3 separate regions of the Homo sapiens genome follow, and regions 1 and 3 are each linked to region 2. The links come from fine-mapping of genetic effects on gene expression. A gene starts in region 2. Each other region holds a variant in brackets. All regions are shown on one strand. Distances are between the middles of the regions. Region 1 has its middle 24 kb from the start of TREML1. Region 2 holds the start of NFYA (nuclear transcription factor Y subunit alpha). Region 3 overlaps NFYA (nuclear transcription factor Y subunit alpha).

Region 1 (4,213 bases), 57 kb after region 2:
ACTGAGAATGATGATTTCCAATTTCATCCATGTCCCTACAAAGGACATTAACTCATCATTTTTATGGCTGCATAGTATTCCATGGTGTATATGTGCCACATTTTCTTTTTTTTTTTTTATTTTTTTTTATTTTTTTATTTTTTTTAATTTTTTTTTTTATTATACTCTAAGTTTTAGTGTACATGTGCACATTGTGCAGGTTAGTTACATATGTATACATGTGCCATGCTGGTGCGCTGCACCCACTAACGTGTCATCTAGCATTAGGTATATCTCCCAATGCTATCCCTCCCCCCTCCCCCGACCCCACCACAGTCCCCAGAGTGTGATATTCCCCTTCCTGTGTCCAAGTGATCTCATTGTTCAATTCCCACCTATGAGTGAGAATATGCGGTGTTTGGTTTTTTGTTCTTGCGATAGTTTACTGAGAATGATGGTTTCCAATTTCATCCATGTCCCTACAAAGGACATGAACTCATCATTTTTTATGGCTGCATAGTATTCCATGGTGTATATGTGCCACATTTTCTTAATCCAGTCTATCATTGTTGGACATTTGGGTTAGTTCCAAGTCTTTGCTATTGTGAATAGTGCCACAATAAACATACATGTGCATGTGTCTTTATAGCAGCATGATTTATAGTCCTTTGGGTATATACCCAGTAATGGGATGGCTGGGTCAAATGGTATTTCTAGTTCTAGATCCCTGAGGAATCGCCACACTGACTTCCACAATGGTTGAACTAGTTTACAGTCCCACCAACAGTGTAAAATGTTCCTATTTCTCCACATCCTCTCCAGCACCTGTTGTTTCCTGACTTTTTAATGATTGCCATTCTAACTGGTGTGAGATGGTATCTCATTGTGGTTTTGATTTGCATTTCTCTGATGGCCAGTGATGGTAAGCATTTTTTCATGTGTTTTTTGGCTGCATAAATATCTTCTTTTGAGAAGTGTCTGTTCATGTCCTTCGCCCACTTTTTGATGGGGTTGTTTGCTTTTTTTCTTGTAAATTTGTTTGAGTTCATTGTAGATTCTGGGTATTAGCCCTTTGTCAGATAAGTAGGTTGCGAAAATTTTCTCCCATTTTGTAGGTTGCCTGTTCATTCTGATGGTAGTTTCTTTTGCTGTGCAGAAGCTCTTTAGTTTAATTAGATCCCATTTGTCAGTTTTGGCTTTTGTTGCCATTGCTTTTGGTGTTTTAGATATGAAGTGCTTGCCCATGCCTATGTCCTGAATGGTAATGCCTAGGTTTTCTTCTAGGGTTTTTATGGTTTTAGGTCTAACATTTAAGTCTTTAATCCATCTTGAATTAATTTTTGTATAAGGTATAAAGAAGGGATCCAGTTTCAGCTTTCTACATGTGGCTAGCCAGTTTTCCCAGCACCATTTATTAAATAGGGAATCCTTTCCCCATTGCTTGTTTTTCTCAGGTTTGTCAAAGATCAGATAGTTGTAGATATGCGGCGTTATTTCTGAGGGCTCTGTTCTGTTCCATTGATCTGTATCTCTGTTTTGGTACCAGTACCTTGCTGTTTTGGTTACTGTAGCCTTGTAGTATAGTTTGAAGTCAGGTAGCGTGATGCCTCCAGCTTTGTTCTTTTGGCTTAGGTTTGACTTGGCAATGCAGGCTCTTTTTTGGTGCCATATGAACTTTAAAGTAGTTTTTTCCAATTCTGTGAAGAAGGTCATTGGTAGCTTGATGGGGATGGCATTGAATCTATAAATTACCTTGGGCAGTATGGCCATTTTCACGACATTGATTCTTCCTACCCATGAGCATGGAATGTTCTTCCATTTGTTTGTATCCTCTTTTATTTCATTGAGTAGTGGTTTGTAGTTCTCCTTGAAGAGGTCCTTCACGTCCCTTGTAAGTTGGATTCCTAGGTATTTTATTCTCTTTGAAGCAATTGTGAATGGGAGTTCACTCATGATTTGGCTCTTTGTCTGTTATTGGTGTATAAGAATGCTTGTGATTTTTGTACATTGATTTTGTATCCTGAGACTTTGCTGAAGTTGCTTATCAGCTTAAGGAGATTTTGGGCTGAGACAATGGGGTTTTCTAGATATACAATCATGTCATCTGCAAACAGGGACAATTTGACTTCCTCTTTTCCTAATTGAATACCCTTTATTTCCTTCTCCTGCCTAATTGCCCTGGCCAGAACTTCCAACACTATGTTGAATAGGAGTGGTGAGAGAGGGCATCCCTGTCTTGTGCCAGTTTTCAAAGGGAATGCTTCCAGTTTTTGCCCATTCAGTATGATATTGGCTGTGGGTTTGTCATAGATAGCTCTTATTATTTTGAGATACGTCCCATCAATACCTAATTTACTGAGAGTTTTTAGCATGA[AG/A]GGTTGTTGAATTTTGTCAAAGGCCTTTTCTGCATCTATTGAGATAATCATGTGGTTTTTGTCTTTGGTTCTGTTTATATGCTGGATTACATTTATTGATTTGTGTATATTGAACCAGCCTTGCATCCCAGGGATGAAGCCCACTTGATCATGGTGGATAAGCTTTTTGATGTGCTGCTGGATTCGGTTTGCCAGTATTTTATTGAGGATTTTTGCATCAATGTTCATCAAGGATAATGGTTGAGAAAAACTTTTTTAAAATACCTTTTTTTTTGAGATGGAGTCTCCCTCTGTCACCCGGGCTGGAGTGCAGTGGCACCATCTCGGCTCACTACAACCTCCACCTCCCAGGTTCAAGCAATTCTCCTGCCTCAGCCTCCCAAGTAGCTAGAATTACAGGCATATGCCACCACGCCTGGCTAATTTTTGTATTTTTCGTATACATGAGGTTTCACCGTGTTGGCCAGGCTGACCTCAAACTCCTGACCTCAGGTGATCCGCCAGCTTCAGCCTCCCAAAGTGCTGGGATTATAGGCGTGAGCCATCACACCCAGCATTTTAATAGCTTTTAAGTGCATTTTATATGTAGCATATTTATTTCCAGCTATAAATTTGTCTTGTTAATTATTTTAGCCCAGATGATATTAAAATGAATATACATTTCCTAACCATGTACCTCCTGGGTCTCTAATGCTTATCAGTGTTCAATGTCCCTACCTGGAGTTCACCAGCCACTCTATATACAGTTTTCCATCCCACTTATCTAACTTGATTTCTTATTGTTTTCAAACAAAAATCTATTCCACATGAACCACTCCCACACTAACCTGTGTGTCTTTGCTCACACAATTCTCCCTTGTTAAATGCTGAGTGACCTCCACATCTCTCTACCTATTAATATGTTGACCATCCTTCAAGGCCCTCCTCAGTCTCCACTTTTTTAGATCATTATAACTCAGAGAGATCTGACTTTTGAGCTCAGCGTGCCTGTGAAAAGTACACTAGATCAGTAGTCAGAGTGGTAAGCTCTAGTTTTGGTTTGGCTTCTCAATAGCTACGAAGCTATATGTAATCTCTCTGAGCCTCAATGACCTAAAAGAGGTAATTTTTGCCTGCCTGAATGACAGGGTTGTTGTAGGATTAGATGATGATATATAAAATAATATTAAAATGTGGTATTAGAAAATTCAAAAATGCTAACAGAAAAAATGTATTATTATTGCTTTGTATCATTTTTATGTTTTATTTAATATTTAGTTGTTATTTAACTATTCAAGTGTGGTATTTCCCCATTTAGATTGAGGTATTTAGATTGGCTTTCAGCTTTTAAAAATTCCTAATAGAGCTTTGCAGTTACAGCTGTAGTCCCTGACTTTTAAAATTTTATGGAGTAATGGAGGAGAAGGATAGGCAAATAATTAATGAATGATACAGGAAGACTTCCTGGAAAAAGTGACTTTGAGACCCGGTAATGCCCCAGTAAAGGTGGCCACTCTCAGTTTTTCATTTTCTTTCCACAAAGAACAGAGGAAGAGTTCCTAGATCAAGTGAAGAGGAAGCTGGCTCAGACCAGCCCTGAGAAAGACCTGTTGACCACAAAGCCTTGTCACTGTAAGGATATCCTGAAGTTAGTGCTCTTACCCCTCACCCAGCATTGCTTGGTCGTTGGAGAAACCACCTGTGCATTTTATTACCTGCTGGAGGCTGCGGCTGCCTGCTTGGACCTGTCAGATAATTATATGGTGAGCAGGCTCTGTAATCTGCCCTTCAGCTGAGCCTTTTACTTTGAGAATGTGATTGAGATCTCTTACAATCATAACCATGAGTGAAAAGTGGAAGAAAGTAGGAGAGAGAGAAGA
Region 2 (4,213 bases):
TGTGCAAAGGAAAAGACAATGTTTTATTAGATACAGTAAAATACTAAGCTATTTTTCTGTATTTTGTGTCCCCCACGACTACCTCTCCCGGCACCCCTTCCTCCAATCTGATTTAAAGCCAAACCAATTACAGCATGTGTAAAAGGAAAGTAATGGATGATCCCTGCCTAGAATTTTGAGCCTTTTTAAAGTAAATCAGCTAGAGAGAAAAAAAGATAATGCAATCATTAATTTAATTAAAAAGTGTTTATGCTTTTGACCTCCATTATTACGAATTTCAGTTCACCAATAAGTCAATAGTTGTTACGCACTCTGCTTCCTTCTGGATCTTCATTAAGGCTGCTGGCCATGATACTGAGTCGCTATTTCCAGAATTTAAGTGTTTCTTCAGCTATGAGAAGGGAAAAGGAAGTAAAAATGCTTAGGCAGCCTTAGTATATAATATTCTGATTGCCCTGTACAACCACTTAATAGGCTTTTTTCCCCAACGTTTATCGATGAATGTGAGTTTGTTCGGCCCCTGGGACGTAATACAAAACCCTTCTGGGGCAAAGAGGAAGAACGCTTAGGTTCGGAGGCTGTCTCGACCCGCTCTCATTTCGTGCTTTCCTGGAGCGCCCCGCTCCGTCAGCGGAAGCAAAGCCCATCCCTAAGACACGCCTCCTCCTTTCTCCAGGGCCACTCCGGAGCAAGGCCGATTTAGGACGGTCTCCTTTTCTCTGCACGACGCAAAAGTATTTCCCCAGTGGGTCTGGCTTAGAAGAAAACAGAAGGGACTTGGCCACAGTCCCGTTAAGCCGCAACCACAGAGTGTACAGGGTACTGGCGTGCTGAGCCCCAGGCGTGGGGAAAGGAAGGCGGCCTCTCAAGGAACGTTCACCCCCCACTTTTTTGGGGGGTGCGTGGGAGAAGGAAAGAGTCTATTGAAGCCTCCCATTCTCTGTCTCCTACCCTAGGGCGGGTCAGCGAGGACGCAGTCTGTCCTGGGGTCCTATGGGAGGGTGCGGGGAGGCTCGCTCAAAGCCCCAACGTACCCAAGTCACCCTTCACCTGGAAAGGAGTCGGTTGTTTGGAGGTCCCCGCCCCGCGGGGAAGGGCTCCGGATCCGACCCTGGTAGGTGGGGAGCAGCGGACCAGCCCAAACGCGGAGCCAATCCCGCCAAAGCCCTTAATTGCACGCATCTAAGATGGCCGCCCCCGCCCGGTAGCGGGGCGGAAACGAGCCCCTCTAGCTTGCTAGCCGAGCCCACACTCTTTGGCGAAGGCCGCCGAACTTCCGGCAGTAAATTCCGTGGTTTCCCGCCGCCGCCCGCGCATGCGTAACGAAACTGCCCCACGAGTCGGGAAAAGTGGCGCTTGCGCATTAGCCGCAGGGGTGTGTCCTAGTGGCCACTTGGAAAGGGGTGGGCAGCTGGCAAAGGGGCTAGTTAGCGCCTGCGTAGTACTAAGCTCAAGGCAGCGTTTTGAGTTGAAGGGTCTGGCGCGTCTGGAAAGCGCCTGCGTATTCCTTTCACTGGGGGTGGTGTCAAAGCGGGAAGGTGGGCGTGGCTTCAGGGAACGCCTGCGCGTTGCTCCTCCGAAGGGGTGGGGCGATCCCTGAACTGGAGTTAGTGGGCGTGGCCTCAGAGGCGCCTGCGCGGAGGCGGTTGGAGGGAGGCCCGATTCCCCTTTGTTCGGGTTCGCCATTTTGCTAGGCAGCGGCAGTGGCGGCGGCAGCGGCGGCTGGAGCCTCTGATTGGGTTTCGGAGTCCGGTACTGGAGCCAATCAGCGCGGGCAGCGAACCGGGGGAGCGAGGCACGGTGAGTGTGAGGAGCCAATATCCAGCGGCCCAGAGCCGGCCCCAGCGCCCCGATTGGCGGGTCTCGCTGACCACTCAGGAGAGGCCCAGGCGCCCGTCGAGCCCGGGGAGTCGAGCTGAGCCTAGCCGAGCCGGGCGGCCAGCGGCCCCGGCCCGGGGCCTGCGAGCGCCTCGGGGCACTCCCGGCCGAGGCCTGCAGGGGCCGCCCCGCGCGGGGATGGCGCCTCGGGGAGCAGGCACCTCGGGGCTCCGACCCTCGCAGGGTGCCAGGGCCAGTTGGGAATGCGTCCCTGTTCCCCGACTCAGGCCCAGGTTCTCAGGCCCCAGGCCTGGGGCCACGAATGGCCCTACACTAGGGGACACATGCGCGCCCTGGGCCTCGGCGATTTCCTCCTGGTCGTTCTGGCCGCAAACTTAAACCTGCCCTTGCACTCTCCACTCTCCGGCCCTTGGGACAGGAAGCCTCCCCGGGGCCCGCGCCCCCCGCTCCCCGCTCCCAGCGAGCCGGGTCTGTCTTATCTGCAGCCCCTCTAGGTCGGGAGGGAGGCCTGGGGAGGGTGCGCGCCGCGGCCGCGGGGTCCCGTGTGCGGCTGGCAACGGGGCTGGCCCGCCCACGCCTCGGAGCCCTATGGGCCCGCCCCCGCTGTCTCCCTGGTGGGGAGAGGGGGCCGTTAGTTCGCCCACTCCCCCTGCTCCGCCGCGCCCCTCCTCCCAGCCCGCTCCGCCCGGGTCTCCGGCCCGGCGCCGTTACCACCCCTTTTGGCTCGTCATTTCCTCTCTTCCCCGCCCCGTTCGCAGTGGCAGGACCGCACACCTCCGTCTTGGAGCCCAACCAAGCGGTCTCCGTTTCTTGTCCGGGCTGTAAGACCAGTCCATTCGGTGCCTGGAACCTCACTCTTAGAAGATTGATACCCTTGCGCATTCTTTCCGGAGGCTGCACAACTTGCTGTTCATATTACTAATCTTATCCACTGCTCATTTTGTGAAATCTCCCTCCCTTGGGAATATAGTACAGTTTTGGGGGTTTTTTTTCCCTTTGTTTTTGCCTTCGCCTTTCTATGTTACTTTGTGTCAGGCTTGACCCAGTCCACTCATCTCTTGGTTTATGTTTTTCTGATACACTTTCAAGTCCTGTGTTAACGTTTTCTCAGCAGATGTTTAGAAACTAACAGTGTTGTGGGGTTTTCCTTAGGGTGAGAGGTTGCTGTTGGCAACCAATTATCCAGCAGTTAGTATATGCCAGGTATAATCCGTGTGTTAGGGAGGGAGTACGTAGAGGTCAATAAGAACTGTGCCTACCTGATGGAAATTGACAGGTGAACAGGTAGTTAATACCTAACGGTTAGTGCTATAAAGGGGCCAAGTTCAGTTGCTGTGAAGTATCCATGCGTGAGCTAGCCTCCGTGAAAGGCTTATCACCACCGCACTTTTGACTGGCCTTGAAGAATGATGGTAATTCTTCCACAGGAAAGATGGAAGAGCTTGCTCGAAGAGAAGAAAAGCATGTGCAGAGGAATCAAATTACACTGTTGGAGGCAGGAAGATGGGATAGGGAAGTGGGCAGTAGTTGTGATAGTTTAGGGGGGAAAGCCCAGTTGGTAAAATACTTGTATATCTTGCTAAGGAATATTTTGGAAACAGTTATTATTTTGTATGGAGGTTCAAGTAGAAGGGATCTAGAGCTATATTTTTTCCTAAGATTGAAAAAACGAGTTTCTGACTTGTTTATGGGTTCTGCCCCGTGATAGTGGCTGAGTTCTTTGGGGATGAAGAGGAGACTTGTCCTAGGACTCTGAAAATTATTTTTACTCATGTGAATCATCTAGTGCATTCCCTGGCACATAAAGGTCTTAAGTATCTGGTGCCCATTTCTAAATTCACATTTAATGTTATACAACTAATAGGTTTCAGAAAACTCGTATTCCAGTGCTCTTTCATTACTAAAACTTCGGGGACAGGTTTTATTTTCACTTTTTAGGGTGAGTTTTTCATTGTTGCTTAAGTGATTTTCTTAATTCATTTGATTGTCACGTTATCCGCATTAGCAGATGAGATGATAGAGCTTAAGTAGTCTAAAAAACATGTATATTTGCCTTTGGAACGTTTTTTTGTTTGTTTTTGGATACAGGGCTTTCCTCTGTCATCCAGGCTGGAGTACAGTGGCGCAATCGTAGCTCACTAACCTGGAACTCCTGGGCTCAAGCCATCCTCCCTTCTTGTTCTCCCAAAACGTTGGGATTACAGGCATGAGCCACTGCGTCCTGACCTGAAATAGATGTTTTAACCTTAGTATTTAAAAATAGGTATGTTCTGGTCACTTCAAAATCACTAAATACTTTTGCTTGGCATCTTTCTAAAAGGCATTATAATCTGGTAACTTTTTTGCTAAATACCTTACAAGCTTCCACCAGTCT
Region 3 (4,213 bases), 26 kb after region 2:
AATTGATCAACTCTTCCAATGGGACATTGATGATCACATTCTGCCCTTTACTACAGGACAGAAACCACTTAGTTTTTAATAAGTGGCTCAGTATTACAATTGCAGCGATGCCTGGCAAATTGAAGTTGCAAGCCTTTGTCTTACTCTTTCAGTCAGGACCTATTTCAGACTGTTGATGACATTGACATTTCATGGATTCGGATGATGCAAGGAGACACATGCCACCCCAGCAGTACACAAAGCACTTACCTTGACTGGTGAAGTCAGCCAGCCATCTCAGCAGGGAAGAACAACCTTCTCAACCAAAACTGCAATCAGGAAAGCAGCAGCCCACTCCTTCCCATGGAATCTAGACAGCATTTATCCCTCTGGTGGGGGAATCTCACACTGACTAACTGAATGGACGCTTTGTATTCAGAGATGGCTTCCAGGCAAGGAAGTTCTATCTTGTGATACGGAAACAATAAATTCCTGAGATACATTCTTCCAATCTGTGGTAATAATAAGAATTCCTCTCTGCCCAGATGGTAGGTTGATATTTCTGGACTCTAGCCAAGAAAAAGCTAATTCTGGGGATAGAATGATAAAAGACTCAAGCACTAAAAATATACATTGCCGAATCTCTTTTTCTAGCTTTGAAAAGTTGTGGCCTGCTTGTCCCTCTGTTGACTGGTCATCTGGACCATCGTACTTGCTGTGGCTACTTCTAAGACAATGTAGAGGGTTATTAAACCTTGAAACTGCCTTTCCTAAGTAGAGAACAAGACTATTCAACAACTTCTTTGCTGAAGCACTGAGGAGATTTGTAATACTCCTAAAGGAAGGGCCAAACTAGAGATTTTCAATCATAGACTTTGTGACAGCATTTGGGGAACTAAAAGATTCATGTGTTTCAGCCTAGTGGGAGAGAGTGGGGGAGAGGAAGAGAGAGAGAGAGCATGTATACCCGTATGTTATCATAGAGCACGATTCTCCAGTGGATGGATACCTGGAATGGATCATTAAGATGAAGAGAGTAATTCACATTTACTCTAGAACCTTTAACAAGCACTGAAAGGAAGAAGCCTGAGATTTGATCCTTGACAATTTCTGGAAAGCACTGGTCAGTCACACTGTCCTGGACAGAGTCCAAGTTACCCACTAAAGCTTGAGGTGGATGTTGGCTTCACTCCTGCAGCACAATGCTGGCCCTAGAAAGCGAGCATTTTCATTCTTCCCATGGCAGCTGATTCTTTGGTGCCAGTTTTCATGTTTTCTCCATAGGCCTTGTGCAGAAAGGTTTTCTCATTGCATCCATACTGTGAGAATAAACTGCAGACTGAAAGAAACATGCCTGCAGGGTCAGGAACTGGGCCACTGTTCCCAGAACGGGTTGTGCCTCAGAAATCTATTTCTCTTTTAGATGTTGAACCCTGAGAGAACTAAGATGATATTTCAGAAGAGTTGGCTGCCTTCTCTGGAAACAAGGAAAACCCAATAATTCCGAGGAACATTGGGGGTTAAATACCAAGAATAAAAATTGGTTCTTCTTTGACTTCAGCTTAACTGTATTAAGACAGAAATTAAGCCCTCTAAAAACACCACAAAGAGAGATGATTGTAATGATAGAAATAGAGGTACAGAGCTATGCAAAGGAAACAGGAAGTGAAATATTCCTAGTCCCAGGGATCTGGTAATCGCTCCTGG[C/T]TTCCAGATGTCAAAGGACTGATCCTTTGGTAAGCTCACTAGAAACTTCTAGCTCTACAAGAGTTTGGGATATTAATGTTATTCAGTAAGTCCCAAGTTTTTCAGAGAATAGATTACTAACAATGAGGAATTTATATTCCTTGGTTAATTTAGGAGTCTAAGATGCAGAGTTCAGAAAGAAATTACTCAGACCTAACTTTGAGTGCTTAAGCTGCCAACAGTTAGAAGATGCTATTTATTTGTGTCTGTAAGTTTGTACATAGTAATGCCAGCCTTGTTGCTGAATTTTTTATTTGGGGGGAGATGACTTTGAATTTTGTTTGAAATGCTTCAGTTGTCATTTTGTCATTGCATTTCAAATAGCTCATGACCCTTTTCTTGTGGTCACTTTGGCACACCATAGTAGCCCACAAAGTGGGGGCAGGGTATTGACATTTGGATTTTTTCTTTGATACTAGTTCTTTTATTCATTTTTATTTGTGACTGTAGTGATAACTTTACAGATGGAGAAAGAGTGAATGGATGAATGAATAATTGGTTTAATGCCTAGTTATGCAACTTGAGTGCTTTTTTTTTTTTTTGCAGGATAATTTTAAGTGTATATATTTTAACTGCACTGGTACATTGAACATGTCAGTGTCGATGCCACTGGACCAACAGAGCATTTTGTGGCTATAGGGTGCCTGATAATAATGTCTTGATTTTTCTTTGGGATTCAACTATATCGAAGGTTTTTCCCCCAGCAGTATGGGGGCGTACAGGTGATCGATCATTAATGTCATTGCAATTGTTATTTTTTAAAATAAATTTATAAAAATAACCGAAAAGTAATGTGACTTTTGAGGAATCTGCAACTCCTGGGTTCTAGTTTGTGTTTCCAGTGTTGAAATTTTGATCTCCCCCGACAAGACTTGTCTGCATGGACGGTGTCTCTGTAAACAGTATCAAACTTGTAATGTCTGAGCCTCTTAGCTTTATCTCCCCTTAATTTCTTCCCTTTTGGCCCTTCCACCCTGTTGAGGAGATTTTTTCTGTCACCTGCAGGCTGATCATACATTTGATGCTACTACTGAAAGTGTTTATCAAAATGTGATGAAGTAATTCCATGAGGAAAATTAGCCGTTATCACAAAAACAGCCTTAAGTATTGTAGAATTTCAGGTAGTGAAGATGTACTATTTACGTTTTGTTAGATTTTGTTTTGGCAGAAGACCAAAACAAAAGTACTTTTCTGATTGTTAAAAATCCACAGCATGCTCACCTTGTTACTGTTTTACCTTACGGTCGCTGGGAATCTAAGCAACAAAGACTAGAAGCCTCCGATATGCCATTATCAACACACAAGAGACAAACAGCCCGAGGAAGCACTCAATGATGAGAGCAGTAGACCTGCCCTGGCAGATGAGAGAGGAGAAACTCTCCACAATGAAGGAAAAGCACTGACAGTATTTGATAGCTTTAGTCAAACTGTGCTTGAGTTTGGCTTAGATTTATGCCAGTGGAACCTGTCCTTACCAAATTCAGAGATGACCCAAGATTCTACTCTGTGGTATGAGGGAAAGACCTCTCGATATTTATCTCACACCAACGGCTTTATCGTAGGAGCGTCTTCGCCTCCCCCGTTTCCAGTAGAAAAGACAGCTTTGCTCCTTTGAAAGCGCAGACCGCCGCACCTCCAGCCCCTTCTCCCCGGGGAAGTAGGCCCCGCTAAGAATGTGGGAAGGTGGTGGGGCGGCGACTGAAGTCGCTTCCGATTGGCGTTGTCCCAAGGAAGCCTGCGCGGATTGATCGGCGGCAGGCCTCCAATAGAGCCTGCTAGGCGGATTGGCTGCTACGCGGCTGGGCCCTGTTTCCGGTACCTAGGCGGGCAGCCATGGTGACCGGCGAGCGGCATGCGACGCCGCCTCTGTGGCCTGTGGAGGCCCGCTTGGCGGCGCTGCTTCCCGACCTACTGGTCTTTCGGAAGCCTCGGGGATGGGAACCCGAGCTCGCCACGGCCCAGGGCGTCCTCCTAGGCGTCCATGTGACGGGTGAGGGCGACGGCCGGCACTTGCACTTAAGTCTCCTGGCCTGCGGGAGAGGCGGCCGTTGGGTCTAAGCCCCTGGAGGCCTCGACGGTTACAGGCCTAGCCTCCCGCGAGCTAAGGCACAGTTTAACTTCGTGCTGCGGCTTCCTTAGGAAACTTTGAGTATCTTCGTTTTAGCGTGGGAGGACATCTTTTGGGATGAACCGGCTCAGTCCTTGAGCTCACCCCAAAGATGATGAAATTGAAACTCAGAGGAAAGGATTTTTACAGGACCACGCCCCGGGCTTTGAACCCGTTTTTCCCAACCCCGAGCATTTTCTATTAAGCGTTCTGTTTCAATTATTTTATTCGTTCAGTTAATTCGTTCTTGGCGTCATAAGTATATGCCCGCCGTTGTTCTGGCCGTAGCTATCTAGCAGCCACTCCGCGAGTCGTTCATTTAACAAATACTTACTCTGTGTCAGGGATATGAAGATGGGTAATACCAGGTGCCTGTCCTCA

What was found. PIP is the estimated chance that this variant, and not a neighbour inherited with it, causes the effect.
Region 1: its variant is the best candidate, but not a certain one, in a credible set for the expression of NFYA in thyroid (GTEx, PIP 0.56).
Region 3: its variant is the best candidate, but not a certain one, in a credible set for the expression of NFYA in whole blood (TOPMed, PIP 0.66).

What each region holds. Positions count from the first base shown.
Region 1 is chr6:41,128,418-41,132,630 of GRCh38, forward strand. It overlaps the pseudogene ADCY10P1. Among named protein-coding and RNA genes, the nearest start is that of TREML1, 24 kb to the right of the region's middle. The variant AG/A (reference allele first, on the strand shown) is at 2,354.
Region 2 is chr6:41,071,285-41,075,497 of GRCh38, forward strand. NFYA (nuclear transcription factor Y subunit alpha) reads left to right here and starts at 1,690. Exons shown (of 10, transcript NM_002505.5): 1 at 1,690-1,800. It overlaps OARD1 (O-acyl-ADP-ribose deacylase 1), which reads right to left and starts at 1,072. Exons shown (of 6, transcript NM_001329686.2): 1 at 952-1,072; 2 at 312-391. The coding sequence starts at 350. RefSeq lists enhancers at 1,091-1,300, 1,331-1,380 and silencers at 1,761-2,390, 2,421-2,580.
Region 3 is chr6:41,097,464-41,101,676 of GRCh38, forward strand. NFYA (nuclear transcription factor Y subunit alpha) reads left to right here. Exons shown (of 10, transcript NM_002505.5): 10 at 1-4,213. It also overlaps a transcript of OARD1 not described here and the pseudogene ADCY10P1. Among named protein-coding and RNA genes, the nearest start is that of NFYA, 27 kb to the left of the region's middle. The variant C/T (reference allele first, on the strand shown) is at 1,687.